Homo sapiens: one gene and its partners. The protein of the gene in region 2 interacts with the protein of the main gene of each other region in a pairwise test. Each region holds a gene or a part of one and is shown on either strand. Other genes may lie near its edges. The genes, in order: SMAGP, SUSD3, TMEM182 and TMED8.

Region 1 (8,066 bases), on a different chromosome or scaffold from region 2:
TCCCCCTTGCCAAGGTTCTAATCCCTCAGCTAGCTGCCAAGGTATCACCTTTTTTCCCTTGTGGGCAGGATTATTCTGGAGGTCCTCTGCCCACCCGCTTCCTGAACATCCTCCAGGGTAAATCGTCTCTGTAGCTTCACACATGGTATGAGGTATTCTACCTTTATCTAGAGCAGGTACACACGAAAAAGGTATTCTACGTTTCTCTAAGATACCTGCTGCGCCCCTTTGCCTGTATGAACCTTGTCCGTCTTTCAAGGGCAAGACTCAGATCCCCTTCCTCACCCACCCATGAAGCCTTTGCTGACCTATTCCCCCCCCCCACTCCGTGTCCCCCTAACTCTTTTTTTTTTTTTTTAAGACAGGGTCTTGCTCTGTCACCTAGGCCGGAGTGCAGTGGCATGATCTCGGCTCATTGCAACCTCCATCTCCTGGGCTCAAGGGATCCTCCCACCTAAGCCTTTGGAGTAGCTGGAACCACAGGTGTCTACCACCAAGCCCGGCTAATTTTTAAATTTTTTTGTAGAGATGGGGTTTCGCCATGTTGCCCAGGCTGATCTCGAACTCCTGAGCTCAGTCTGCCTGCCTCAACCTCCCAGAGTGCTGGAATTACAGGCGTGAGCCACCATACCTGGCCATTTCTCTCTTTTATCTCTTCTCACCAGACAACTAAAAGTCTGAATTGTGTGCATTACCAGTCACAGAGGACACTGTCTTAGACTTCCACTGGTGGTGTCACTCACCTGTTTCCACATCAGTAAAAGCAGAGAATGCCTGTCCTAATGACAAATGTGACTGTGTATAGGAAGACAAAGGTGTATAGACCAACCAAGGGTTTGTTCCTCTCTCTCCCTAACTAGCACATGCTGAAAACAGTCAATAAATAACTGATAGTTTGTCCGGCCCAGCCTGATGATGAACTAAAAGGTGGGCATCCATTCTCAGAGTGCTGAGCAGTAGTGCCCGGCCTCCGCACACCTTCAGGGAACAATGGGGTTTTGATGCTGGGTCTGTATCACCAGAGGAGTGGAATGAGAAAGCCAGCAAAATCACTTTCAAGGGAAAGATGGGTTTCTAACAAGTACTCAGTGCTAATAACCAACGTGACTGAGTGCTTACGAGATACTACACACTCTTCTAGGTGTTTTATATGGGTTGTCTCATTTAATCTTCATAAATCATAAGATAGGTACTATTTTCCCTATTTTGTGAATGATGAAACCGGAGCTTAGAGGTTAGCAATACTATCTTTAGCAGGTTTTTAAAAAATGATTTCCCTGTTATCTTTGAAGATTCCTTTTCCACATTTAATTACAAGGGTTTCTGCTACATTCTTTGCCATAGCTATAAATTATTAGACAGATGAATGTAAAGCCCTTCCTTTAGGCTTATACAATAATCTTCCTTCCTTCCTTCCTTCCTTCCTTTCCTTTCCTCCCTCCCTTCCTATTTTTTGAGACCGGTCTCACTTTGTTGCCCAGGCTGGAGTGCAATGGCACGATCTCGGCTCACCTGTGCTTCCCAGGTTCAAGCGATTCCCATGCCTCAGCCTCCTGAGTAGTTGGGATTACAGGCGTGCACCACCACGCCTGGCTAATTTTTTTGTATTTTTAGTAGAGATGGAGTTTCACCATGTTGGCCAGGCTGGTCTCAAACTCCTGACCTCAGATGATCCGCCCACCTCGACCTCCCAAACTGCTGGCATTACAAGCATGAGCCACCACGCCCGGCCTCTTTCTTTCTTTTGAATTAGCAATGGGGTCTCACTATGTTCCCCAGGCAGGTCTCAAACACCTAGCCTCAAGAGATCCTCCTGTCTCAGTCTCCCAAAGTCCTGGGATTACCGACATAAAATTATTTGATAAACCGAGGTTACAAAGATTTGTGAAGTCACCATGTCCATGTGACTTCAGATTAAAACCGTACTAAGGGGCACACTCTAGTTCCTGCTTCCTCCCAGGCCCTTCCTGTGTGAGGCAGGCAGAGAGAGGTGGGAGTCTTCCCACCTGGGCTGAGGCTTCCAGGACTGGTCTGGGGAAGGGGATGTTGAACAATTCTTTCTCACTGGGATTAGGAAAGGCCTTCACCTACCTCTTGGAGAAGGAGTAGTCAGGAGGCTGGTCATTGTCACTAGTGGTTGAGTTTCTTGGAGAAGAGGCAGATCTGTAGGAAGAGGGGCAAAGACAGGAATGTAGCGGGTGGGCCCCTATGGCTTTGAGTCCTGGAAGTCCCAGGAAAGCCTCTGGTGCCAGGTTCTCCCAAGTCCCTTCCCCTTTTTCTCTTGTCCTCTTCTGGTTTCCCTGAATATCTCCTCAGGCTCCAGGTACCAACAGCTCTCCACAGGAGCAGGTCTGAGGCCGCATGCAGTTTGACGGGGTGTTACCTTCATACGCTCTCTCCAGGTCCTTTCAATGGGCCACCAAATTTACTTAGATCTCTCAAGGCCTGAGAAAGTCAGGCAAAGGTTCGCAAATCAGCAGCGAACCCAGTTTCGCCAAAGCGCGGTAACAGGTACCCTAGGGTTCCACAGCTAGGAGTTCTGGTGACGCCATCCACCAGGTGTCAGGAGAGGGCCGGGAAGGTCAGGACCCGCGCCCAGGCTCCAGAGCGGAGTGGGCGCAGCGCAGTAGCCGGGCCGGGACCGGGAGGCGACGGCCGTGGGCCGCCTTCTGGCTCGCCTCGGACGCTGGGACGCCGGACTGGCCGCCCCCTCCGGGCCTGCTTTCGCCGTCCAGGGCGCGGTCCGCGCACAGCCTGCCAAGCCTCACTGGGCCCCAGCCCGCGCCCCGCGCCCCGGAGATCCTCGACGCCCCTGCGAACGCGGGGTGGACGCGACGGGCTGGGTTGGTCCTCGCCCCGCGGCCCCGCCCCCGTCCCCGCCCCCGCCCCGAGCCCCCCGCGTTACCAGCACCCCGCGGAGCGCGCTGCGCTGGGGGCGGCCGGTGCGTCGGGGAGCGGCGTTCCCAGCCGCCGCGACCCTCTGCCCCAGCGGAGCGCTGAGCTTCGGCCGCTCCGGGTTTCGGTTCCTGCCACGGCCGAGGTGGCTGCGGCGAATGTGGGCGACCCGGCTCTCCGGCGCCCCCGCCCTTCCCTCGTGCTCACCTTTCCAGTCGGACGGGCTGCTGGTGAAGGGCCGGCGCCGCTCCGCGCGTCCTTTTGAACTCAACGGGGGCGGGCACCGCGGAGTCGCGGAGGCCAGCAGAGGCCGAACGAGGACCCCGAGCGGAGGAAGCCGCGGGTGGCGCGCGGGGTTGGCGCAGAGGCCGGAGGGGGTGGGGGGCAGGCCGACGGGGTGGGACAGGAAAAGCGGAGAGAAACCGCCCTCTGCAGGTCCCCTTGGCTCCCCCGGGAGGAAAGGCAGCCTGCCCTTCTCCGATTGTCACTTTACTCTCCATCCGGAGCCGCTTCCTTTCTCGCCGCGAGGCTCGGGGTTGGGGGGGGACCAGATTGGAGCCGCGGGCTAACTGGGATCCGTCCCATTTCCCTGGGCTTGACGTTCTCTGAATTTTTAGCTAATGTGGAAAGTTACATTTATTTGCATTTGTTTATCGCTTGCTCACATAGGTCTGTGTCCTGAAGCTTGGCAGATGAGCGAACTTAGCCAGCACACCCCCGGCCGTGAAGCAGGGAGGTGAAGCGGGGAGAGCAACGAGCCCCACCCGGGTCTTGCCAGCTGGACGTTCTTGTGGGGCAGCGTTGAGCAGCGGTTAGGAGTGCCGTGGACTTTGGATTCAAACAGCCCCAGCTCTTCTGCTTGCTAGCTGGGTGACTTTGGGCAAATTAACATCTCGAAAATCTGTTTCCTCATTCCTAAAATGCGGGTCTGAAAGTGATCATGCCTGTAAAGCCATCTCATATCCATGGTTCTAGAAGCATGGTGAGCACCTCAATTTGAATAATCAGTGCCATGCTTTAGCTACCTCTTGACTCACTCGTTTGTGGCAGGAAATGTTCCCAAATTAATCAGAAGAATTCAGTGACTAAGAGGATGTAATAGTATATAGCGCAGGCACTGGAATCAGCTCTGCTGTGTGATCTTGGACAAGCTGCTTCTGTTCCGTTTCTCTTATCTGGGGCAATACCTGTCTGAATAGAGTGACTGTTGGGACGAAATAGGTTAGTAAATATGTACTGTAAGGCATTAGAACCTTGCCTGGCACATAGTAAGTGCTCAATAAACGCTAGGTCTTGTTACCTTGGCTTCCCGTTTAGGATTGGAACCCTTGTGATTATTCTTTCCCTCCCAGTGATAGACTTCTGTGCTTACTTCGCACTCCTAGGCGTTCTGTAGGTTTGTAAACCAGTATTTATACAGAAATACTTTCTGTAGAAAGACAGGCATCATCAGATTGTGCATGTTAATCCGGGAACAGACCGAAAGGGAAGGTCTCAGAGGAGAGAGGCATAAAGGGAGAAAACAAAACAAAGTCACAAGCAAAGCAAGAGTAGTTGCTTTTATTCCTAAAGTGTTCATTATAAAAGAAACCAGAGGGCAGGGCACTGTGGCTCCCAGCACTTTGGGAGGCGGGTGGATCACTTGAGGTCAGTAGTTTGAGACCAGTCTGGCCAACAAGGTGAAACCCTGTCTCTACTAAAAATACAAAATCCGCTGGGCGTGGTGGCACACACCTGTAATCCCTGCTACTCTGGAGGCTGAGGCACGAGAATTGCTTGAACCTGGGAGGCAGAGGTTGCAGTGAGGCGAGATCACACCATTGCACTCCAGCCTGGGCAACAACAGCAAAACTCCGTCTCAAAAGAAAAAAACAAACACAAATACAGGAGGAAAACAAACAATAAAAAAGTGATGAAATTCATTTTATATAAATATATTGTGAGAAATATATGTAAATATGTGCATGGGAAAATGCCAATCCAACCAAGAAAGGCAAAGAAAGTGATATGCCAGCTATGCATATGTAACTTAATAAAAGAAAGGTGAGCCTGGCTTGTCCTTAGATAAGAGAATATCCAAGAGAAAAGGAAATTAAAATCCTAGAGGGCTAAATCCAAAGGAGGACAATTGCTGGCATTGACATACTTCTAGCTGTCCACCTTGATCATGAATTCCAGGAGAAGTTCAGATCGTTCTTGGACCTGGGTCTGTCTCTTTCACATTTTCTATTATGTGTTGAAGATTGTTTAGAACTATAGACTCAGCCAGGCGCGGTGGCTCACACTTGTAATCCCAGCACTTTGGGAGGCCGAGGCGGGTGGATCACAAGGTCAGGAGTTCAAGACCAGCCTGGCCAACACAGTGAAACCCTGTCTCTACTAAAAATATAAAAATTAGCTGGACGTGGTGGCAGGCGCCTGTAATCCGAGCTAATGGGGAGGCTGAGGCAGGAGAATCGCTTGAACCCGGGAGGCGGAGGTTGCAGTGAGCCGAGATTGTGCCACTGCACTCCAGCCTGGGCGACAAAAAAAAAAGAAAAAAAGAACTACAGACTCAGAGGCTATCTGGCTCAACTGACTGACTCTACTGATTTGCTGTCACTTTCACAATTTCGACAGTTGTTAGTAATGTTCTTTCAATAAGCATCTTTTTTTTCTCTTTAAAATGTAACTGGTGGGGCGCAGTGGCTCACGCCTGTAATCTCAGCACTTTGGGAGGCCAAGGCAGGCAGATCACCTGAGGTCAGGAGTTCGAGATCAGCCTGGCCAACATGGCGAAACCACGTCTCTACTAAAAATACAAAAATTAGCTGAGTGTGGTGGCGGGAGCCTGTAATCCCAGCTACTTCGGAGTCTGAGGCAGGAGAACCTTTTTGCACCCTGGAGGTGGAGGTTGCAGTGAGCCGAGATTGCACCAACGCACTCCAGCCTGGGCAACAGAGTGAGACTCTGACTCAAAAAAAAAAAAAAACAAGTAACCTTACACCTATAATCCCAGCACTTTGGGAGGCCACAGTGGGCAGATCACTTAAGCCTAGGAGTTTGAGACCAGCCTGGGCAACATGTTGAAACACTGTCTCTACAAAATACAAAAAAAGTTAGACAGGAGTCGTGGCATGCACCTGTGGTCCCAGCTAGTCAGGAGGCTGAGGTGGGAGGATCACTTGAGCCCTGGGGGTGAAGGCTGCACTCCAGCCTGGGAGATATAGCAAGATCCTTTCCCCTCAACCAAAAAAAAGTAACCTTAGGGAGGGAGGTGGGGATGATTAATGGGTACAAAAAAAAAAAAAAAAAGAATAAGACCTTAAGACCTACTATTTGGTAGCACAACAGGGTGACTATAAATAATAACTTAATTGTACATTTAAAAATAACTAAAATAGTGTAATTGGATTGTTTTTAACACAAAAGATAAATGCTTAAGGGGATGGATACTCCATTCTCCATGATATGATTTTATTATGCATTGCATGCTTATATCAAAACATCTCATGAGGCCGGGCATGGTGGCTCACACCTGTAATCCCAGCACTTTGGCAGGCGGATCACAAAGTCAGGAGATCAAGACCATCCTGGCTAACATGGTGAAACCCCGTCTCTACTAAAAATACAAAAAATTAGGCAGGCGTGGTGGCAGGCACCTGTAGTCCCAGCTACTGGGGAGGCTGAGGCAGGAGAATGGCATGAACCCGGGAGGCAGAGCTTGCAGTGAGCTGAGACTGTGCCACTGCACTCCAGCCTGGGCAACAGAGCAAGACTCTGTCTCAAAAAAAAAAAAACAAAAAAACTCATGTACCCCATAAATATATATACCTCCTATGAACCCACAAAAATTAAACATTAAAAAAATAAAAATAGGCCAGGCACAGTGGCTCACGCCTGTAATCCCAGCACTTTGGGAGGCCGAGGCGGGCAGATCACAAGGTTGAGAGATCGAGACCATCCTGGCCAACATGGTGAAACCCCAACTCTAATAAAAATACAAAAATTAGTCGAGCATGGTGGCGCATGCCTGTTATCCCAGCTGCTCAAGACGCTGAGGCAGGAGAATCGCTTAAACCTGGGAGGCGGAGGTTTCAGTGAGCAGAGATCACACCACTGCACTCCAGTCTGGCAACAGGGTGAGACTCCATCTCAAAAAAAAATAATAATAAAAATGAATAAAATGTAACCTTAGAAGGTTTGCTGATACTTGATTTTTTTTTTTTTTTTTGGAGACAAGAGTCTTGCTCTATCACCCAGGCTGGAGTGCAATGGCGTGATATCGGCTCACTGCAACCTCCGCCTCCCGGGTTCAAGCAATTCTTCTGCCTCAGCCTCCCAAATAGCTGGGATTACAGGCGTCTGCCATCAGGCCCGGATAATTTTTTGTATTTTTAGTAGAGACAGAGTTTCGCCATGTTGGCCAGGCTGGTCTCGAACTCCTGACCTCAGGTGATCCACCCGGCTCAGCCTCCCAAAGCGCTGGGATTACAGGCATGAGCCACCACGCCTGGCCTGATACATTATTTATTAATTTTTTTATGTAGTCACATACCTCATTTTATTTTTTGAGGTGGAGTCTCACTCTGTCGTCCAGGTTGGAGTGCAGTGGCTCCATCTCAGCTCACTGCAACCTCTGCCTCCCAGGTTCAAGTGATTCTCATGCCTTAGCCTCTGGAGTAGCTGGGATTACAGGTCCACACCACCAGGCCTGGCTAACTTTTGTATTTTTAGTAGAGACAGGGTTTCACCATGTTGGCCAGGCTGGTCTCAAACTCCTGACCTTGAGTGATCCACCTGCCTCGGCCTCCCAAAGTGCTGGGATTATAGGCATGAGCCACTGCTCCCAGCCAACATACCTCATTTTAAAAGTGTAGTCATACAGAAAAATAGATCCAATATGCACATGCTCAGCACCCAGTTTGGTGTAAAATAAATACTATTGTAAGCAGTGTGCGTATTGTGTTCTCTGGTGTGTGTGCTGTTTATCTGGATATGTCATGTCTCGAGCTCTCTGCATGTCTTACCTAGTCTGTCAGTATGTCCTTCAAACTGCTGGAGGGCAGGGACTGGAGGATGTTCTTGCAATTAATTCTATGTAGAGAGGCATACAGACAGATGATGAATGAAGGCTTGTGGTGGTAAACTACCAGTGTTCTCCAAGGATTAAATGCTAAACCTCAGAAACT
Region 2 (7,724 bases):
CCTCCCAATCCCCCTCAGCCTCACCACCACTTCCTGCCTCTTGAGCTGACTGTCAGAGTGGCCCCTAAGCCGGCCTCCTCCAGCCTCTCACGGCCCTGTCAGGGTGCCTCCCTCCCGCCCTGGCTCTCTCACTCCCCAGAGGGGGTGAACACAGCCCTGTACACAGATCTGTGGCCACTCTTGGACGGGACGCACACGTCCGACCACACACTGCACAAGTTCCCGCAGTGTAAGAGGCAGGGTCTGTGGCGCTGGGACCAGGCAGAAGTGTGGCCCCAAACAGCACCCCTGGGAGCCCCTCGGCATCATGCTCTGGCCAGCAAAGCCCCTGCGGCAGCGGCAGCAGCTGTGGCTGCCATCATCCTGGACACCATGTTGCCTTGAGAGGCAATTGTTCCTTCCCCCATTCCATGGGCACTTTCCCAGTTATGACACAGGATGATCTGGTCCCAGTGCTGTAATGGGGAGTGGGGATCACAGGTGGGGCAATGGAGGAGCTCTGAAAGTGGCTTTGGATATCTCACTACCCAAAAGGAAAGGCATTAGCCACCATGGCCCCAACAAAACTAAAATAAAAAGGAAAGGGGGTCAGGCACGGTGGCTCACGCCTGTAATCCCAGCACTTTGGGAGGCCGAGGTGGGCAGATCACGAGGTGAGGAGATCGAGACCATCCTGGCTAACACAGTGAAACCCTGTCTCTACTAAAAATACAAAAAATTAGCTGGGCATGGTGGCGGACACCTGTGGTCCCAGCTACTTGGGAGGCTGAGGCAGGAGAATGGTGTGAACCCGGGAGGCGGAGCTTGCAGTGAGCCGAGATCGCGCCACTGAACTCCAGCCTGGACGACAGAGCAAGACTCCGCCTCAAAAAAAAAAAAAAAAAAAAAAAAAGGAAAGAGGCCTAAAAAATGTACAGCCAATTGATGGGTCAGGTGCCCTCCCACAACACATGGAGCAAAACATTTGGAGGTAATTCAGCAGAGAAAACAGAAAATGACTCATGCCAGCAATGGCACTGGTGAGCCAAGGCTGGAGAAAACATTCTTCCTCGACATTCATCAAAGAAATGCTGACGGAAACTACCCACACAACTTGTAGCTACTGTAAGAAACAAATGATAAACAAATGGTCAGCACTCAGTGATGATGCAGTTACCAGAAAAATATGGCCACATTCACTTGTACCAGAGCTCCCAGGGAAAGAATGTGGTCATAAAATATTCAGACTGTTGGGCCTAAACAATCGATTCCTAGGATCAGCCCCAAGAGTTGTGGTCTTGAAAAAGAAAAACAGCACTAAGCAAAAAGACACTGACCACGCCTGACCACTCAACAGGGGAGGGTCTAGCAGATATTGGAAGCTTTGGAATAATGGGCTGCTGTAAGGAATGATAGCCTGGAGGCCTCAGACCACCATGGTGACCTGGAACGTGTTGCTAAGTGCAGAAGTATCAATGGCAGCATTTCGGCTACATCCTTGTTGATGTAATACACACTTGAAGCGTCAGGAAAGGAGACAGAAAGGTGAATTCCTTCCCTGCAGGTGTTGGCCAGACCCAGCACGGTGTGTGTAACCCAGGGCCACAGAGACCACCATCTCCTGTGCCTCAGTTTCCCCATCTGCATAAGGTCGTAAGAGTGGCAACGACAGTAACAGCCAGTATTCAATGAGCTCTCACCCTGGGCCTGGCGAGAGAGGCACACACCCGGACTCAGGTAACCTCAACAACTTGAAAGGGTGAGCGCTACTGCAATCCTCACTTTACAGGTGAGGAAACCGAGGCATGGAGCTGTTAGTCATACAGTGAGGCCATGAGGGCTGGGACCAAGTGCACTGCAGCCTCGAAAGACTCCAGCAGGAGGGCCTGAAGGAAGGGAACACAAGCTCAATGATGTCGTCTGGATGCCCGCCCAGACCCCGGTGTCTAAGCGCTGTTCTCCACCCACAGAAACAGGGCTCCCAGAGCAGTGGCCAACCGCAGAGATGGGCACAGAAAGCATGAGATGGGCCTGGAACATCTTGTGCAAGGCAGGAAGCACTCACAGACTGATGGGGATGGATCAGAAGGACACAGGCCATGGCTTGGCAGAGCTCCTACTGCCAAGAACTGGAGCCCACAAAAAGTGTGCTTGAAAATAATGTGGGGGAAGGGGCATGAATGAGGTTGCCTGGCTTAGCTGGTGACCATGAGAATGGGAGGCAGGGACAGGAGATCTGTGACAATATTCTACTTTTGTGTATTTGTGAACTTTTCCCAAAATAAAAGTTTCAGAAAAGAATATTCATGAGTTCATGTGATGCTAAAACAACAAAACAAAATCAAAAGAAAGGAAAGAAAAAAACAGCTCATCCTCATCCCTGATAGAAGGAATGTCAGAAGTGCAACAGAATTAACAAAGTCACCATTCTGTAATGCCCAAGGCAAGAGCGGATCTGGCAGGATCAGCCTTGCACGCTGAGACCACAAGTCAGAGGCCGCTGAGACAGTGGAGGGACACTTGCAGAGCCCCTTCCTCAGGCTCTGACAGTGGAGGGACCTGGGGGGCTTCGCCTCAGCCAAGAGACCCCATTCCATGTGGCCCGTGGGGGCAGCCTGGCCCATGTCTGTGATCTGCACATGTAGCCCTGCACCAGAAATGCAGAGCCGGGCCTGGTCACACAGAAACACCAGACAGACGCAGACAGGAGCCTCTGCATGCGACCACTGGCCTGGAACCCTCAGAAGACTATGCCATGAAAAACTGAAGGCCCATACCAGTTTAAGGAGCCCAGAGACCTGGTGGCTGAGTGCTGCGTGTGATTATGGACATTCTCCACTCAACAGGCCACGTGCAATCAATATTAGATTTCTGTTAGTTTTGTTTTTTTTTTTTTTTTTTTTTTGAGACGGAGTCTCGCTCTGTCGCCCAGGCTGGAGTGCGGTGGCACAACCTTGGCTCACTACAAGCTCCGCCTCCTGGGTTCAAGTGATTCTCCTGTCTCTGCCTCCCAAGTAGCTGGGATTAAAGGCACACTCCGCCACACCCAGGTAATGTTTGTGTTTTTAGTAGAGACGGGATTTCACCATGTTGGCCTCGAACTCCTGACCTCAGGTGATCCTCCCACCTCAGCCTCCCAAACTGCTGGGATTACAGGTGTGAGCCACCAAGCCTGGCCAATCAGTATTAAATTTCTGGACTCAGAAAAAGAATGTCCTTATATTGGTTCAGGGCAAAAAAATGTATGTGTGTATTAAGAGAGAGAGAAAGGAGAGGGACAGAGCACGGGAGGGAGAGCAAGTGACTGCAGCTCAGTGCAGAGCCCTGCTGGGTGTAGGTGGAGGGAACACAGGTGTGTAGAAGCTTCAGCTTCCCTGGAGGGTGGACCCTCCAGATGAAAACACTGCTGGGGGCAGTTCTGAGTCCTAGAATGTCAGAGTCAGGACAGAGTGCTACAAGGACCACCAGCCTCTTGTTTTAGAGATGGGAGTTAAGGTTCTGGGTGGGCTAGGCGTGTGGGAGCAGCAGGCTCTCAGCGTGTGGGAGCAGCAGGTGGCCCGGGGCCTGACCAAGCTGGACCCCTTGTCCCCCAGCATGTCCCCTACCCAGACCCGGGCTCACGTGGTGAAGCTGTGGTTGTCGTGCGCCTGGCTGGGCCCGCTCACGGGTTTGTTGAAGTGCTTGAGGCCAAGGTATGCGGCCTGCACCGTCTCCAAGTCCTCATCTTTCAGCTGGGACCACAGCTGGGCTGACCTGGAGGAGAGTTTGGGAGGAAGGACTCTGAGCATGCAGGTGTATCCCTGACGGTGGTGGAAACAGGCTCCATGTAGGCCCAGGGCACCGTCTGCAGGACCAGTGCAGGCTGGCAAACCTCTCAAAGAGCTGGGCAGTGGATGTTTTTGGTGTGGTGAGACACATGATTTCTCCCACAGCTAAACTCTGCAATTGCAGCCCAAAAGTAGCCACACACCAGTAGACAATGAACATGGCTGTGTTCCAATAAAACTTTACTTACAAATACAGGTGGTGGAAAGTTCTAGGGCTGGACAGTGCTAATGGCTGCACTACATCGTGAACATACTTAATGCTACTGAACTGTAGACGTTAAAAAGGTTAAGTTTTGGCCAGGCGCAGTGGCTCATGCCTGTAATCCCAGCACTTTGGGAGGCCGTGGCAGGTGGATCATGAGGTCAGGAGCTCGAGACCATCCTGGCTAACACGGTGAAACCCCGTCTGTACTAAAAATACAAAAAAAAATTAGCTGAGCATGGTGGCGGGCGCTTGTAGTCCCAGCTACTCGGGAGGCTGAGGCAGGAGAATGGCGTGATCCCAGGAGGTGGAGCTTGCAGTGAGCTGAGATGGAGCCACTGCACTCCAGCCTGGGCGACAGAGTGAGACTCCGTCTCAAAAAAAAAAAGGTTAAGTTTTATGTATTGATATTTTACCACAATAAAAAATAAAAACAAAAAATAATAATAAATTACCATGGGGAAAAAACCTGACAGACAGCCGGACTTCGCTGGTGGGCTGTGGTTAACCAGCCCTCCATCTGCAGTGACAGTGACTCCCTCTCAAGGTTTAGGGGGCGTGTGTGGCAGCCCTGCAGGCCGTTAACACAGCAGAGTACATACTGCATATGTGTGCAGGTTTAAGAATAAAACGGGCCGGGCGCGGTGGCTCACGCCTGTAATCCCAGCACTTTGGGAGGCAGATCACTGGGCGGATCACCAGAGGTCAGGAGTTTGAGACCAGCCTGGCCAATATGGTGAAACCCCATCTCCACTAAAAATACAAAAAATTAGCCGAGTGTGGTGGTACATACCTATAATCCCAGCTTCTAGGAAGGCTGAGGCAGGAGAATTGCTTTAACCCAGGAGGCGGAGGTTGCAGTGAGCTGAGATCACGCTACTGTACTCTGTCGCCTGGGTGACAGAGCAAGACTCCGTCTCAAAAAAAATAAATAAATAAAATAATCCCCCGTGAACCCATAGCCTGGCCTAAGAGCAGGGCCTTGGGGGCCCACATGTCCCCCAGCTGTGATGCTGCCCCTGGCTGCTGCGTGGGCCGGGAGCAGCACTTGGGGGGGAGACGCAGGCCCAGAGCAGCAGTGGTAGGAACGGGTGCCCTGAGGGCAGTGCCGGGGTTCCCTTGAAACACTCTGTCCTTTCCTCCTCCCATGGTGCCAAGAGGCGCCTCCCGGGAGGACCCTGAGATCATGAGGCCACCGTACCTGTTGGAGCGCCGCCGCTTGCTCTTCTTCACGCACTTGAGGAGGCAGCAGGTGAGGAAGGCCATGGACATGAGCAGGATGATGGCACAGCTCACAATGGAGGCGATCACGGCCACCTTGAAGCCAAAGGTCTCGTGTGGTGGCACCACTGTGTGGGAGACAACCACCAGCTCCTGGGCGAGGTTTGCCCAGATTTGCTTGGCCCAGGGGTTGGGGGTCTCAGGGGTGGTACGGGTAGGGCCTGGGTGTAGACAGGGCCTGGGCAGCCCTCAGTGAGCCCTGTTTGCATGGTAAGGGGGCAGTGAGGTGCTGGGGGCTGAGGCAAAGATCTGTGCAAACTATATTTGGAGGTGGGACTATCAGAGAAGACTCTCCCCAAGAAGCAGGTTATTTGAGCAGGGTGTGTAGGAGTATGCAGAGTGGCTATTTAAAGGGGGTATTTAAGCAGGGTTTTCCAGGGTGTGTAGGAGTGTGCAGAGTGGCTAACTGAAGAGGGTATTTGAGCAGGGTTTTGTAGGGTATGTAGAAGTCTGCAGAGTGGTCAATTACAGAAGTTCTGGCAGGGAGTTCAGAGTGATGGCCTCCTTGGCTCCTACCCACTGAAGTCCTGCCTGAGGAATGAAGGAAGGGTGGGCCACAGAGAGGAGGTGACAATAGACAGTACTGAGGAGGCCTTGCCCAGCCCATGGTCTGGGTTTTCACAATGCCCCAAGGTGGCAACATTCTTCAGGGGGCCTACATGCCTTCTCAGGTCACTTTCCAGGAAGGTCCAAAATACTATGTATCTGCTGTGTGACCTCAGCTATGCTCCAAAAACTAGTTCCATCAGATTCTACTGGATGTTCTGGCTAAAAAAGGCCTCGGAATCCTAATTTGAGCAACACCGTTTACTCCCCCACGTAGAGAACATGGCCCTGTCCCCTGCCCCATTTCCCATGCTCCCTAGTGGATCCTGGCCACCCAAAATGGAGACTACATTTCCCAGTGGTCACAGGACCATGTTCTGGCCAGTGGAAGATAAGAAGTGATGTGGGGCAACTTCTAAGAACCTTCCCTGAGACACTGGGGCCTGCTCTTTGGCCCCAGGGCCCCTCACCCCATAACAGCTGCCTGGAACATAGCTGCTGCCATCTTGAATCATGAGGCTGAGGCCATGCCCAGCAGAGCCATGCCAGGGAAGGGGCCTGGCTCCCACTGCCATGGAGCCTATACAGATCTGCCTGCCCACCCTGAAGGTTGAGCTCCATCATAGTTAATCCTAGTATTTTGGGTTTTCTGCCTTTCAGAATCTAATCCTAACACTCGCATCCTCAGAGAATCACCTAGCACGTGAACATTTTAAAGGCTCTGAGAAGTTCTGCAGCATAAAAACCCAGAATCTGCCAAACTATTTTGACTCTGAGCCCTTTTTATGCACAAAACACATGAACATAACACACATAGCTTCATTTTGGAAATGTCATGCTGGGCACTGAAAAGGGACTATCTTGTGGACCTTTCAACACCTGTACAAGAAATACAACCAGAAAACCATTGCCTCCCACAGACTGGGAGCTCCAGGGCCAGGCACGTTATGACCTTCCGTGTTGCCAGTACTTAAGATTCCTGATACGTGAAATATCCTATTAAAGTTGGCCATGTGCACCTGTACATGAATGAATGAATGAATGAATGAATGAATGAACAAACATAGTTTCCTGCTTAACAGATGAAAACGTGCTGGCTCAGAGAGCATGCACAGCCTCTTGGCGGTGAGGGGCTGAGTCGGTAGCAGAGCCAGGATTGGAGGCCCGCTACTAGGTTTTCGGTCCGTGCTGCCAACATGGCACTGGGAGGGCTGAGGGCCTACAGCCGGCTGCTGACATGTAAGCAAGCTGTCAGTGTTGGGAATGGGACCCTACACACTGGCCTAGCTGCTTGTGAGTAGACACCCACGCCATCCCCACCCACACCATCCCCATGACAGGATTTGGGGCCATCCCCCACCCCCAGAGCCACCGAGCTGAGAGAGGGGTCCTTACGTTTGCACACTGGGGACCCTGAAGACCACTCAGCGATGCTCCCCTTCCAGGTGCAGGTGAGGAGCCCAGACCCCACCATCTGGTGGTTGGAGGGGCAGCGGAACATGAGCACGGTCCCCACGGAAGCACCATTGCCACGAAGGACTTGGAAGGTTGCTTGCGGGGGTAGCCGCAGCTTAGCGCACGTGCCTGGGGAGACAGGCAGGTATGAGGCATGGCGGGGGGGGGGGGGTGGGCACGCAGGGCAGGGCTGGGCAGGACCCTGGAGTGAGGAGCTGGCACAGCATTGGGGAGCACAGGGGTGGGGTGCAGCTCCAAAGGCCATTGGATGCTCTAGAGGTCACATGGGGTCATCCAGACCGGGGGACAACGCAGAGCTGGATCCCTCCATGAAGTACACTCTAGATGTTGAGGATTGGAGCATTAAAAAAAGAAATAAGTGTTAGAAGACAATAAAAGCAAACATACCTTCCCTGAGACACTGAGGCATGGCC
Region 3 (7,724 bases), on a different chromosome or scaffold from region 2:
CTACAGTTGAGAATATTGTAATATACATCATACTTCTAAAACTTTATGTCATCATTACACATGAGAATATCACAGATAAATATATAATATGTATACAATAAATATATATGATATAAATATGTAATTATGCTACTATATTTATACAAAATGACTGAACTCTGTGTGTGTAATATCCCATAGGAGACAGACAGACAGATATCATTAACTTAAAATCACATTAAGAACATGAAATTTGTAATAACTTGCTAAGGGTTGATACAGACTATCAATGTCATATATAGAACAAAAAAGTGTTTTTCAAAAATAGTAGCTATTATATTTAATGTTCTCAATAAATTAATATTAGTCAGGGTTCTCCAGAAAAAAGAGAAACAATAGAACACATAAATATATATTATATACACACATACATGTATATACATATGCATGTGCACATACACATACACACATAGAGAGTGAGAGAGAGTGATTGTAAGGCCTGGTGAGTCTGAAATCTACAGGGCAATTGGCAGGCTGGAGATTCAGGTCAGAGCTGATGTTGCAATCTCCAGTCTGAAGGCTGGACACTCCAGTAGAATTTTTCTTCTGCAATCTGGAAGCTGACTTTCTTTTTCCTCAGGACACCTGTTTTTTCTCTTTAAATCTTCAACTGATTGGATGAGGCCCGCTCATAGTATGGGGTAGGGGGTAATCTGCTCTACTCAAAGTCAAGGGATTATAAAAGCTAATTGCATCTAAAAATACCTTCACAGCAATATTAAGCTGGTATTTGACCCAACAACTTGGCACCATAATCCAACCTAGTGGATATATAACAATAACCATCACAGAACTCAACACATCTTTACATGGAACTATTTTTCATCTTCCTGTTAAATATGTAATTCCATACATTATAATTTTTAGTTTTGTCAAAGAATGTAACATTTGCTTGTATTACATCATTAATAGGACACTTATAAAGAGGGTATGAGGTCTGGATAGGGAAAGAGGTGAGCTGACCCACAGCTGTGCTTGTCCACCAGGATTCCTTGGGTTCGAAGGACTGGGACCATTTTCCTTGAAAACATGTGTGGTATGGATGCTCCTTCCCATTAAAAACTGCAGAAGGCACCTCACTCACATTTGTCAAAACCTTTGTGTCATGTCTAATGGACTTAGAAGTATACAAGCCTACCTGTCACTAGTAAGGGAAGAGATGGATGGCATAGGAAAGAATAGGAGAAACTCTTTTGTTTTACAGACAAGCTAGAAAATGATGCTCCTTCCCCAACATTCTTACTTTTATAAAATGAACTGAAAAGTAATACAAGGTTGGCTTTCCAGAACATTAGGTATTAGCATAAATACTAGTATTGTTGTTATTCATATAATGAGGTCCTGTGATAAGATAGGTATTGTAGGCACTGTATATTTAAAAATGATCCCATATTTGAAAAGCCTGCACTTCAAGGAGATAGTGGAGAACTTGAAAAACAAAGTAACATAATCTGTGCATGATAATTATGATGGAGATGGATTGTAAATACATGTCAGAAAAATTATACTGCAGTTACACTTAAAATTATTATGTAGCACTGCATTTAATTAGTGTGTCACTTTTTTGATCTAGTGACAAAACCAAATCCAATTTTTTTAAATTATCAAATTCCTCATTGGCACACGTATTGGAACTCATTTACTTTCAGAAACTTTGTCAATCACTTTAGGTAGAAATGATTGAGATGTGCAAAGATGTGTTCTACAACAGAAATACTATACACAAGTTTCACTCATCTCCATAATAATATACAAGGAAATTTGATATTATCTTTGTTAAATTTGGGGTTTTTTTGTTTCTTTCCTGTATCCAAGAGAAAGGTATAGATTTCATTGGAAGCTTTGTACCTGACTTTTCAGTATGGTTTCCTAGTTAATGAGACTATGTATACTTCACTATGCTTTAGAGCTACTATTAAGTTTCATGTAGCTTCACAATTACCCAACATCAGATACTTGCCAGGTCACCTTTGGTAAATTGAAAGTATCATTTATAAATTCTGATGTATTGTGGCCTGGCAAATTGTTGGTGAAATGGCTTTATAGTGTCCTGAGTTTTTACAATTGCAGTTAGCCAATATTGAATTCAGTGAAAATAATATAGTGGTGTATGATTTTTCTGGAGTAACAATTTTAGAATTATAGGACACTACCGATGAAATTATCCTTTTATAATAAGGAGACTGGGAATCAGAGAAATCATGTGACTCTGTCTTCATACAGCTGCTTATTGGCAGAGCCAGTGCAAAGAACCAAGTCTCTGGCTTTTGTTTCATCGATAATCTACTAAACTACAATGAATGAAAAGGCTAATTGTAGTGCATACTATTAAAAATATGTCTTTAATTTGTATCTTAACAAAAGAACAAATTAAACTTACATTGGCTCTTTCTACCTTTATATTCAATTCTGACTTGTGTGTATGATCAGGTCTAATTCAGTGTTTTCTTTCTTTTAAAAGAATCTCAAATACATATTCTGAAATTCAATTATCCTCAAATCTAGTTATTTGAATGACTGGCCAGGCCTGGTGAGGGTGGTCTAATTCACAGAATTGCTTTTGAGGTAGGCTTGTGTACTTCTAAGTGCATTAAACAATTCTATTACCTTTGGAGAGTTGTCAGAGTCTAGATTTTCTGGTTTGTTTCATGTTTACATTCAGTCACAGTTCACTTGTTTGGTATCATTTGGCAACGATGTACTGAACATAAATGAATTTTCAAGACAATTCAACCCTGAGAGAATTAATTTTTTGCCTTCTCAGTGTCCCCATAGCCTTTGATGACCCCTCTATCAGAGTGCTCGTTATGCTTAACTGGAATTGTTTGTTTACTTCAGTTCCTTCATTATTTATTTGAGCTCTCCAAAGCATAGTTCCTGGTAATTACTAGATGCTTAAAAATATGTCTAGAATGACTTTATGCAAAATTACAGTTACTATTTTCTGCAATAAACTAGTTTGATTTTATTTTTCCAAGTGGAAATGTTTAGAAACTCAATTGCATACTTTTAGTTTCTTCTGAAGCAGAATGCAATGAACACAATTTCATCTTTTCTTGATGAGTGGGAACAAATATATACTTATGGGGGTGAGCCATCTGACCTTCTTTAAGGTCCTCCATCTCAGTATCTGTCCCCTTGCCCCAGGACCTGCCCTAAACTTCCCCAAATGCTGTTCCTCTCTTCCTTCCTCCTCCTCTGTTCATTTTTCTAACAGAGCGGGTTTATCTCCAGCTAGTTCAAACTTCAGTTTCCCAAGGAAGACTTCCTTACCTGCCCCTACGCCACTGGTACATGCACTGGGCCATGCTCTCCTTTATAAAACCCAGTCTTTAATTTGATAATTCATAGCACAGTTTTAAATTATTTACTCATGTAATTATCTTGTTCATATACTTTTTTTCTAGTTCAATTCTAAGCTCCATGAGAGTGGGAGTCTTGTATGTTTGACTCACTATTTTATCCACTGTAGACCAAAAGCTGAATGCATATTTTGGGGAGACTTCATTATTACACTGTACTGTGGTATTAATACTGATGCCCTAAGTCACTATTGATGTGCAGAATTTCTTTAGCTCTTTACTAAATGGACCTACACAACTCTTTAAAAAATTTGTTTGGCCAGGCATGGTAGCCAAAGTGTTGTAATCCCAACACTTTGGAAGGCTGAGGCGGGCAGATCACTTGAGGTCAGTTAGAGACCAGCCTGGCCAACATGGTGAAATCCTATCTGTACTAAAAAAAAAAAAAACACACACAAAAAAATTAGCCAGGAGGGGTGGTGCACATCTGCAATCCCAACTACTCAGGAGGCTGAGGCATGAGAATTGCTTGAACCTGGGAGGCGGAGGTTGCGATGAGCTGAGATCATGCCACTGCACTCCAGCCTGGGCAACAGAGCAAGACTCCATCTCAAAAAAAATTTATTTTTTTGCGTGCTTTTTGTAATTTTTGGTCTTCCACATTGTTTTCGCCTGCCAGCTGTGTTTTGCTTTTATTGTCAATGTTTATTTATCTAGTACTATTTTCTGGTCTTTTCTTCTTTCACCCTTATAGAAGTGTAAGCTGAAGTGAATGATGTGAGGCTACAAGCAGGGAGGCAGCGAGGCAAGATGTTAGTTGGCAATGCATTAGGCTGCAAGTAACAGAAAACAAAAAGGTTATTTTTCTCCTGGAACAAGAGGGTCAGAAGCAGCTTCCACAATGATGCTGCCAGGAACCCAGGCTCTGTCAACTGTTTCTTCTACCATCCTTGGGGGTGGACAGTCACCTTCATGCTCTTTCATCCTCAGAAAAGAGGAAGTGCTTCCAGAATTTAACAGTCAGTTTCTGCCAATGTTTTATTCATCAGAACAATGCCACATATCCCTCTGCTTGGGACATGTTGTTTTGGGCTGTCTAGCAACACAGAAGGGAAATGGAGAAAGCCTGGGAGTGAATGAAAATCAAAATCATTCAGTGAATCAGTATCATCAGGGGTTGAACAAAGGTGGGACAGTAAAAATGAAAAGGAAATAAAGAATATAATTGATATGTGAGGAGTTAACATGTAAAATTGGTAGCCAAACAAAAAAGAGCTGGAGGGATCAAGGATGATGAAGAAGTTTCCTTTTCAAATAGGTGTAATTCAGTTTAAATAACATACAGTAAAAAGTAATGTGGACACATACCTTCAAACAATAAGTATTATTTTAGTGGGTTTTTAATCCTTTTATATGCATATTATATTCTGTTTTAATCATCATAACTATACATGTCTATCTTGCTTTTCTGTTTTTATGTTAGCACACATTTCCCCATGTATTTACTTAGTGATTTCTCAAATTTTAAACATGTTGGTTGCTACCTCTGCATCAAAAATAATTCTATGTATGTAGCATTTTTTAATAATTTGTATTTACTCTTTGGGCTATATTTTCAGAAGTATGAATAGTGACTCAAAATATAGGAATAAGTTTTCTTTGGTGTTGTTATTGTGCCATACTATAAAATTGCTTGCCAACTGGTACTAAACTGTGAATTACTTTTGACTAAGAAAAGTTGGTAAGATGGACAGAAATCTGAGAGTTAAGAGGAGGGGGCATGTTTTGAAGTAGAGCATGGTGATTTACTTTGGTTTGGACGTATTAAACTTGAGTTGATGGTGGAATACCAGTTTGTAATAATCATTCAGCAAGTAGCTTGATATGCAAAACTGGTTTTCCTGAAAGTCATTAATTATAATCATTGATACTGATGAGAAATTGCAGAGGTGATTTTTGATTTCAAATATAATCTTTAAGGAAAACAATCATAGGAAAGAAGACAGTAAAATACCAATTATTCTTAGGGGAAGAAGGGAAGAAGAAAGACAGCCCACAAATGAGGGAGAGAAAGAAGCATTAAGAAACAAGTCAGCGAGCAGTCTGGTGCATTTTCTTGGGAAGGAGGCAGTGGTCTTCAATGTCAAACGCAGAATGAATGGACATGAGAAGCAGGCAGGAAGGAATTGGATCATAAGCCAATGATGCAAAAGTTCTTGGGGCCCAGTAGCTCCGTCTTCACCAAGGGCTCAGCTACAGACACCCATTAAAGTCTCCTTGTTCCAGGCACCTACTTCTATCCTAAATCCACCTGACACTTCCAGATCATCTGCTGTGTATCCCATCCCGGTTCACTGCTCATTCTCTTAGACAGGACCTGAGGACTCTGTCCTCTTTACCCTGCAATGCACTTCCTCCCTCAGGGATCCCATTCCATTTTCCTGCACATTTTGTCACCTGAGGATCCTCCTGAGAGCCAAACCCTACCTCAGGCTTCCTCCTTTCTTCTCTTCTCACAGGAAGAGAGGTTAGACAGCAGTGATCTCACAAAGGGGTTGTATCAGAATGATGGGAATGTGAAACCGCACACGGATGCTTGGGGAGTGAGCAGTGAGGAAGTAGAGACCTTTTCAATCAGCCAACACTGCGGCTTGGAATAGCCACCAACAGAGCACAGCATGGCAGAGGGTACAGAGTCCTTATAAAAACAGCCACATCCACACACAACAACTTGCTTTACCATGCAAGGCAAAATAAACTACAAACATGAATGTCCTTACATTTGGCAGTTTGAAACAGCACAGGAAGAATTAAGATTTGAGTCTAGAGTTTATAAAAATGTAAATTCTTAAATAATTTAGGAGGCACATCAACCTGTTGTAGGTATCTAATCTCATTGAGATACCCCCACCTCTGGCTTGCAGATCGATTACTCTGTGGTAGCTGGGTCTTATTTATCAGTTTTTTGGGTGTTCATGTATGGGGATTCTGGACATTGTCCTAAATACAGCAAATCACTCCAAATACTTCCACTGTGTTTTAGTTAGCTAGAAAAAACTATGCACCACAAAATGTAATGGAAAATGCAACTTAGCCTCCTTTTCCCATAAATGTCAAGTACTTAGATATTTGGAAATGCCTAACATCAACTTAATTTGCTGGTATTCGTTCAGACATTTGGGATCACACAGCCATCACCACAGACACAGTATCACGTTACAGGAGTGGCTGCAGTTCCTGAATAACAGCTGACTTTCATCTGGGACCCCAGCCCAGGCTCCATTGCATGCAGGCTTGGGGCCACTCCCAGAGTGGCTCACTGGGCTTCCACACACTCCAGCTCTTGAGGGTAGAGTTGGCTTGAAAGTTCTAGGGCACAACATCAAGGCCGTACTTAAAAATCACCTTTTTTCAGAGAGTGCCATTTTGTGTTCTGTACAATTTATTTGTGGGCTTCTGAGAATTGGTTGGCAGTTTATGTAATATCCCTGCAACGATGAGAGGCAATCGCTTTCTGAAAACAAGACCTGTGATTATCCCAGCAGCATGGCCTGGGTTCCCTTTGCAAAGGACAGGCTTCCACCTCCATGGAGGCTTCAGGAGATCCCTGAAAATGCCTTCCACACTTAGAAGCAGAAATCTCCTCTCACGCTAGGAACTCCTGATGTGTACAGCAGGATTTCTCAACCTTCACACTGTGGACATTGTGGGCCAGATAATTCTTTGTTGTGGGACTGTCCTGTGTATTGTGGGATGTTTAGTGGCACCCCTTTGCCTCTACCCAGTAGATCCCAGTTATGATAACTAAAAATGCCTCCAGACATTGCCAGGTGTCCTGGGTGTGGGTGGGCACAAAATCACCCTCTAATGAAAATCACTGAGGCCATCTAGACATTTAGTCCCAAAACTTCTAACCCAGGCCCAGGATCTTCTTTGAAATTATACTCATACTGCTTACACTGTGTGCTCAGCTCCAGGTCTGGGCCCAAACACACACAAGAATAGCTTCCTTCCACTGCCTTCTTTCATGCAGGGTATTCAAACCCCGAAGGAGAAAGGAGCTGTCTGGGCCTCTCTTATCTTGAAGCATTATGGCTTCTGCCTGAAACTTTGGACCTTTTCTTAGGAGAGAGCATCAACTAGAACCAGGGAAAAGCAATTATTGAGTGCCTGCTGTATACTGAGCACTGTTCTGGATGCTTCAGAATCAGCCCTAAATTCTTGCCCTCGTGGGGCTTTCATTATAGCGGGGAGGCTAAAAATAAACAATAAGTCAGTCAAGCACTTGGAAGAAAGTAAAAGATGAGAGGGGTGTGTGTGTATGGAGGGGACTTCCACACTGAGTAGGGTGACCAGGGAGGCCTCATGAACAGACGAGGTTTG
Region 4 (7,724 bases), on a different chromosome or scaffold from region 2:
TTCCTGGGCAACATAGTGAGACCCCCATCTCTACAAAAAAAAAAAGAAAAAAATCAGTCTGGCATGGTGGGGTGTGCCTGTGGTCCCAGCTACTCAGGAGGCTGAGGTGAGAGGATCGCTTGAACCTGGAAGGTTGAGGTTGCCAAGAGGCCGAGAGTCATAATTGTGTCACTGCACTCCAGCCTGGGTGATAGAGGGAGACCCTGTCCCCCTCCAAAAAAAAAAAAAAAACAAAGAAAAGAAAAGAAAAATAGATCTTGTTCACATATAAAACATGAGACTAAATTAAGCTTGGATTAAAAATTTTGCCTGTCATTTTCACTTTGAGTTTGCTACCAAACTCTGAAACTTTCAATGTTTGAAGTTTACTTAAGTTGCATTTTGTATTGAGAAGTAAACTTCAGTCTTCAGTGTCTTGTTGTCTTACACAGAGGGAGTTTAATGAGGGGCTGTCTAAATGCACTAAACCATATGCTATCTGGGTGTTCAAGGAAAGGCTAAATGAATAACCCACAAAACTAAGTAGCATCTGATGGTTAAGGGCACAACTGCCTGGGTTTGAATCCTGTCTCTATGCCTTAAGTTCCTTACTGCAAAAATGGCTGTGATAAGACCAGCCATACATAGGCTTCTTTTGAGCTTGAGAACATGGCCTTCATTATGCATTTCACCTATATACTCCTTGAGGGCACCTAGTTATTCAGTAAATCATTGGTAAATGAGTGATTGAATAAATAAATGAAAATACAAAAGTCCTTTACCTGACCTTGGGTACATTGATCTGAGCTTATTGAATGTAGAAGTGACACTTTATACTTTGATGCTAAATTCAGTTTATCTTACATCCCACTCTGCCCTCTATGTTCTGCCTAATTTAACCATCTGCTTTCTGAGGAATATGATTTCTTTCTTTTTATTAATTTTTTTTAATTGAGTTGGAGTCTCGCTCTGTCGCCCAGGCTGGAGTGCAGTGGTGTGATCTCAGCTCACTGCAACCTCCACCTCCTGGGTTCAAGTGACTCTCCTGCCTCAGCCTCCTGAGTAGCTGGGATTACAGCTGCGTGCCACCATGCCCGGCTAATTTTTATATTTTTAGTAGAGACATGGTTTCGCCATGTTGGCCAGGCTGGTCTCGAACTCCTGACCTCAAGTGATCCGCCCACCTCGGCCTCCCAAAGTGCTGGGATTACAAGTGTGAGCCACCGTGCCTGGCCCTATTTTTTTTTTAATTTTTAAAATTTATTATTATTATTTTTGAGACGGAGTTTTGCTGTTGTTGCCCAGGCTGGAGTGCAATGGTGTGATCTCTGCTCACTGCAACCTCCGCCTCCCGGGTTCAAGTGATTCTTCTGCCTCAGCCTACCAAGTAGCTAGGATTACAGGTGTGCACCATCATGCCTGGCTAATTTTGTATTTTTAGTAGAGATGGGGTTTCACTGTGTTGATCAGGCTGGTCTTGAACTCCTGACTCACCTCAGCCTCCCAAAGTGCTGGGATTACAGGCATGAACCACTGCATCTGGCCTTAATTTTTTTTAGAGACAGGGTCTTGCTCTGTTGCCCAGGCTGGTTTTGAACTCCTGGTCTCAAGCAATCCTCCTGCCTTGGCCTCCCAAAGTGTTGGGATTATAGGTGTGAGCCACTTCACCTGGCAGAAATATGATTCTTAAATTAGGATTAATTTTTGGAGCCTTGTTTTAGAAATGATTTATTTTTTATGAATGAGATATGACTGTCTGAGAATACTTGGATGTGATGACTTGAATAATTTATGTGTTGGGCCTCTGAGAGTATAAAGTTCATACCAGAATATTTTTGGGAAGAATTTGGTTGAAATTGCTAGATTTTTTTAAAGGTACAAGATAATTATGATTGTATTCCCTCTCAGATATTGAATTCTTTCTTTCTATGGTTTTCTAGAGAATGAAGATCTAGAAAACAAGGATACCTCTTTATTGGCTTCTGCCACCGATCCAGAACCCTGCTCCTCACCCCACAGGTAACCACTTTGGATAGAATGCTTTCACAGGTTTTATCTTCTGAGATGAGGAACTGGTGAAAGAAATAGGTAGTGACTTTAAGCGGGGAGGCAAGTTAAAGTAAAGAATGTGGGCCGGGCGCAGTGGCTCACGCCTGTAATCCCAGCACTTTGGGAGGCCAAGGCGGGTGGATCACGAGGTCAGGAGATCGAGACCATCCTGGCTAGCACAGTGAAACCCCGTCTCTACTAAAAATCCAAAAAAAAAAAAAAAAAAAAAAATTAGCGGGGCGTGGTGGCCAGACTACACGCCTGTAGTAGCTGGGACTACAGGCGCGCACCACCACGCCTGGCTAATTTTTGTATTTTTTAGTAGAGACGGGGTTTCATCATATTGGACAGGCTGGTCTCGAACTCCTGACCTTGTGATCCGCCCACCTCGGCCTCCCAAAGTGCTGGGATTACAGGCGTGAGCCACCGCGCCGGGCCAGGGATTTAATTTTTAACTTTTGTTTCTAACATTTGCTGAGTGAAGATAAAAATCCAGTGAATGTGATGCCTGAGGCTTACTTCTTATGCTTATGTGTCTATTGGAAATGGAAACGGCACAACTTTCTATCTTTTCTAGTGAGGCTGGCTTGCCGGCCAGGCTCTCCCCTTCCTTTGAGATGGCCTCCCTGCTCCAGGTCAGTACAAACCAGAAGCTTAAAGCGGAGGCTTTTCCTTTATGTGGCTTATCACCAGCATCAAATAATTTGAAATTAATCTTTCCCCAAATGCCCTTTTCTAATTCTCCAGAGCATAAAATGCTAATTGTGAATATTAAATTTATGTGGGTGGCACATATCCTGTTTAACATAATTTTATTATTTAATTATTTCTTGAGACAGAGTCTTGCTTTGTTGCCCAGGCTGGAGCACGGTAGGCAGTCATAACTCACTGCAGCCTCAAGCTCCTGGACCATGCAACCCTCCCATCTCAGCCTTGTGAGTAGCTAGGACCACAGGCATGAGCCACCACACCGAGCCTTAAAATATGTTTTTTAAATAAGCAGAACCATGTTTTTTCAGAGTAGCATGCACAAAGACAAAGAGACAATTTTAGATGTCACACACAGTAAGTCAAGCTAATGATTCAGATAGCCTGTTGTAGTCTCACCTTTCCAATATTATAAATGATAGTCTGATCCAGAATTTCTCTTTTATTCCCAGGCAAAAATTAACTTATTCATTTTTTATTCAACAAATATTTTGGGGCTAATATTTATTCAACAGATGTTTGTTGGGAGCCTACCATGTACCTGATACTGTTCTAGGTACTAAAGAAACCACAAATGAACAAAATAGTCCATCACTGCTCTCAGGGAGCTTATGTTCTAGTGGGGGAAGTGGACAGAAAACAATTACACATCATACTTCACAGACTCTTAAGTTGCCGTCAACTGTAAGTTGTGCTTTCACGTCCCACCAAGAGAGGAAGAAATGCTTAAGATGGATCATCTAATAGACCCCCCATATGCAACTGGGATACCAAAAACCTGCACCTTCAGTGAAAATATAAAGACAAAAATCCCCCACACAGAAAAGGACAGCAAGGAAGCTTGATTGTCTCAAACTTGACACTGTGTCATAGGAGGAAAAAATATCTCCCCTGAGAATAGGAACCACCAGTTGGTATTAGCCAGTGTCTTGTCTAAATTCACTCTGCCAGGAGGATTAAACAAAACCCTAAACAGAGAACTTAATTTCAAGAAGTCTCAGATTGGTAGCATTCCTAAGTACTGGCAGAAGCAAATGCAAATCTCTCGTGGAAAGAGTTGATGTCAATCCAGGCCCACGGCACTTTTAAGATATCATCAATTTTTAAGACATCCTATCTTTCAGTTGTGTTAAAATCTAAAAGCCAGTGTGCATCTTGCAATCAACAAAATATGCTCCATATCATGTCAGGCAGTAATAGGTGCAGTGAAGAAAAATGAAGCTGGGTAAGGGCAGAAACAGTGACAAGGCCAGGAAGGGGCACACATTTTATATACAGACCTCTGAGAAACCTCTCAGCAGAAAACCTGCAGGAAGGAAGTCTTCAGTTAACTAAAGAAGAGTTAATGTCCTAGAAGAGTATTCTAGGCAGAGATTACAGCAAATGCAAAAGCTCTCAAGTGGGAGAGTACTTGGGGTGTTTGAGGACTATCAAGGATTGAAGAGGCTGTTGTGGCTGGAGGGACCAGGGCAGAGTGAGGATTCTGAGAGGTGAGGTCAGAGTGCAAAGGGCCTTAGGGCTGGGCGAGGTGGCTCACGCCTGTAATCCCAGCACTTTGGGAGGCAGAGGCGGGTGGATCATCTGAGGTCAGAAGTTTGAGACCACCCTGGCCAACATGGTGAAACCCCGTCTCTATTAAAAATACAAAAAATTAGCCAGGCATGGTGGTGCACACCTGTAGTCCCAGCTACTCAGGAGGCTGAGGCAAGAGAATTGCTTGAACCAGGGAGGCAGAGTTGCAGTGAGCCGAGATCCGAGATCATGCCACTACACCCCAGCTTGGGCGACAGAGCAAGACTCTGTCTCCAAAAAAAAAAAAAAAAAAAAAGGGCCTTAGAGTTCCAGGTGGCAGGCTTGGTTCCCAGTGCTGTGCATACAGAGGCAGTGAGACCCAGTGCCTGCCACCAAGCTTACTTTCTAGTAGAGGAGGCAGATGATACACAGTGTCAAGAAACAGAAATGGACTATAATTTCTGGGTTGAAGAGCATTAAAATAGACCCACAGCCTAGGCCAGTTTACAGCTTACACTGAATTACCCAAGTGAACCTATAAAGATCAACAGAATCCCACAGCTCTGATTCTTGGAGTGACCTCCTCTTGTCTGTCCTGAGGTAGGTTGGAGTAATTTTGGATATTCCAAAAGATGGCTCTGTTTTATCTGAAGGAGTGATTCTTCTTGTTTATGTTAAAAAAGAAAAGAAACAAACTAATAAACTCTAAAATGAAGCCTCCGTTTCCCCCATGAGGTGTATACTACCATTTTCCAGTCATTTACTCAACCTCTTTGAGGAAATGATGCCCTCAAGCAGGGATTCTCAGACCTTTATACTCTTAAAAATTATTAAGGACCCAAAGAATTTTTGTTTGTGTGGGTTATATCTATCAATATTTACTATATTAGAAATTAAAACAGCCGGGCGCGGTGGCTCATGCCTGTAATCCCAGCACTTTGGGAGGCCAAGGTGGGTGGATCACGAGGTCAGGAGATCGAGACCATCCTGGCTAACATGGTGAAACCACGTCTCTACTAAAAATACAAAAAAATTAGCTGGGTGTGGTGGCCGGCGCCTGTAGTCCCAGCTACTCGGGAGGGTGAGGCAGGAGAACGGAGTGAACCCGGGAGGCGGAGCTTGAGTGAGCTGAGATCGCGCCACTGCACTCCAGCCTGGGCGACAGAGTGAGACTCCGTCTCAAAAAAAAAAAGAAATTAAAACTGAAAAATTAGAATATGGTTATTTGTTCATTTAAAAATAATAACTCATGACATGCTATATATAAAACATGTTTTTACTTAAAAACAACTAATTTTCAAAGCAAAGAATGTAGTACAAAGAGAGACATAAATCTCTTTAATGTTTGGCTTAATAAAAGGCAGTTGGATTCTCAGCTCTGCTTCTGAGTTCATTCTATTGCGGTATCACATGTCATATAGTCTCTGGAAAATTCCACTGCACACTCTTGAGAAAATGAGAATGAAAAAAGGGAAATAACATTTTAGTGTTATTATGAAACAGTTTGAACTTCATAGACTCCCCCGAAGGGCCCCTAGACCATACTTGGATAACTGCCATTCAAAAAAATCCATGTCACCTTTTATCAGCAACAGATTCCCAAAAGGCCTGGGTTATTTTGCTACAACCGTGGCACTAATTTTCTAGTTTTTGTGAGGCCAGGGGAAATGGAAGAGAGCATAAATCATTCCCTTGCATCTTTATAATCAACTATTCATGGCTGAGCACGGTGGCTCACGCCTGTAATCCTAGTACTTTGGGAGGCCGAGGCAGGCAGATCACCTGAGGTCGGGAGTTCAAGACCAGCCTGACCAACAACATGGAGAAACACTGTCTCTACTAAAAATACAAAATTAGCCGGGTGTCGTGGCACATGCCTGTGATCCCAGCTACTCGGGAGGCTGAGGCAGGAGAATTGCTTGAGGTTGTGGTGAGATGCATCACTGGTGCACTCTGCCAAAAAACAAACAACTATTCACATAGCTGTGTTTGAAGCCATTGGGATTGTTGATTAATGTGCTTTAAAAAGGAGAGAAAGTGATGACCCCTAGCACTGAACGGGGACAGGGTATGAAACGGATCTGCTGAAAGACTGCCTCAGGGATAACTGCAGAGAGGGTTGCCTTGATCATCATTTTGTACTTTGTTTTGGTGCCCAGTCTCCCTTAGGCAGACCTCCTCCTTTTGCTTCTAGCCAGTGGCTTTGTGTGTAGAACTGAACTGAGATTCTACCAATTCCTCGGTTAAAATTCTGTGGGCCCTGTGGGCCGCAGAGTGAGGAATAACATTGGAACTCACAGAAGCCGAGGGCAGGATGGTGGTTAATAGGTGTTGGGGCCAGGGGGTGGGATGGGGAGATGTTGGTCAAGTGGTATAAGGTGTTAGAAGGAGGAACAAGTTCTGGAGATCTTTGTACAACATGGTGACAATAGTTAATAACAATGTATACTTGAAAATTGCTAAGACAGTAGATTTTAAATGTTCTCACCACAAAAAGGAGTATGTGAGGGGATGGATATGTTAATTAGCTCAATTTAATCATTTTACAATGTGTACATATATCAAAACAGCACATTGTACACCATAAATATATACACTTTGTCAACTAAAATAAATAAATAAAAGAAACAACAATGACAAAAAAAAAAAAAAAAAAAAAAAACCAGACCAGCAGTCCATCTCAGATGATGGAGCTGTGTGTTTTCCATGGTTCTCCTAGCCTTTGACCTGGCCTTGTTAGTCTTTGTTTTCACACTGTCAACACTTTACTGTGGACCAATTCAGCCCTGGGCAGTGGTCGGCTAAGGTGACAGTAGAGCTAAATAAATGCCAGGGGCAGGTGGGGCAGGGGGTATCTCGAATGTTGTTTTATTTCAAAGTTTCTCCAGGATGATTGAGTCTTTTCAAAGAGTCCTTGAATTAACATGCTCTCTTCCTCTGAGAGGCCACAGATGGTATCTCCAGTGAGTAAGGATGCCACGGAAGATCTGCGGAAAGCAACTGGTCCTTTGGAGGCTCAGGCCTTGGTGAAACAGGATTTGCTGCCTGCAGACCAGGCCCAGGTCCTCAATGAGGTAGGGGGCAGATTCTGGCTCTTTCTTATGAAAGGAGGCACCAGAATGTGGACACATAGTGGTTGGGTTGGAATTAGAAAGCACTGCGAGGGTGGCTCCCGGAATTCTCTCTTTGCCCTCTAATTTAGGGCATCTTGGTCTTCATTATTTTTTGGAGAATGATTATTTGTATCTTCCACAGGGCCCATCATTGTACTGGCACCCAGTAGGCACCGATTCAGAAAACGAAGTGTTAGAGTGAATGTTCATGTGTTCTCTAAAATCCTCTTCATTGAGGAGCCTGAAGTCATTGGACTATTTTGCTCTTACTTTTCTTGTGGTAGATCTATTTAGTATTTATGATAAAGATTCCACAGAAGCTTTTTTTTTTTTTTTTTTTTGAGACAGGGTCTCCCTCTGTCG

The links.
Region 1: the proteins of SUSD3 (region 2) and SMAGP interact in binary tests that used the Homo sapiens proteins (3 or more experiments, as listed by UniProt).
Region 3: the proteins of SUSD3 (region 2) and TMEM182 interact in binary tests that used the Homo sapiens proteins (3 or more experiments, as listed by UniProt).
Region 4: the proteins of SUSD3 (region 2) and TMED8 interact in binary tests that used the Homo sapiens proteins (3 or more experiments, as listed by UniProt).

What each region holds. Positions count from the first base shown.
Region 1 is NC_000012.12:51,267,154-51,275,219, forward strand, and holds the start of SMAGP (small cell adhesion glycoprotein), read right to left. Parts: upstream 3,263-8,066; 5' UTR 3,103-3,262; intron 3,058-3,102; exon of another isoform or gene 2,906-3,057; intron 2,164-2,905; 5' UTR 2,126-2,163; coding exon 2,092-2,125; intron 1-2,091. UniProt on the Homo sapiens protein: May play a role in epithelial cell-cell contacts. May play a role in tumor invasiveness and metastasis formation.
Region 2 is NC_000009.12:93,075,479-93,083,202, reverse strand, and holds part of SUSD3 (sushi domain-containing protein 3), read right to left. Parts: exon of another isoform or gene 7,721-7,724; coding exon of another isoform or gene 7,699-7,720; intron 7,420-7,698; coding exon 7,231-7,419; intron 5,358-7,230; coding exon 5,210-5,357; intron 3,733-5,209; coding exon 3,601-3,732; intron 1-3,600. UniProt on the Homo sapiens protein: May play a role in breast tumorigenesis by promoting estrogen-dependent cell proliferation, cell-cell interactions and migration.
Region 3 is NC_000002.12:102,764,748-102,772,471, forward strand, and holds part of TMEM182 (transmembrane protein 182 isoform a precursor), read left to right. Parts: intron 1-7,724. UniProt on the Homo sapiens protein: Negatively regulates myogenesis and skeletal muscle regeneration via its association with ITGB1. Modulates ITGB1 activation by decreasing ITGB1-LAMB1 interaction and inhibiting ITGB1-mediated intracellular signaling during myogenesis.
Region 4 is NC_000014.9:77,345,947-77,353,670, reverse strand, and holds part of TMED8 (protein TMED8), read left to right. Parts: intron 1-1,919; coding exon 1,920-1,998; intron 1,999-7,190; exon of another isoform or gene 7,191-7,192; coding exon 7,193-7,322; intron 7,323-7,724.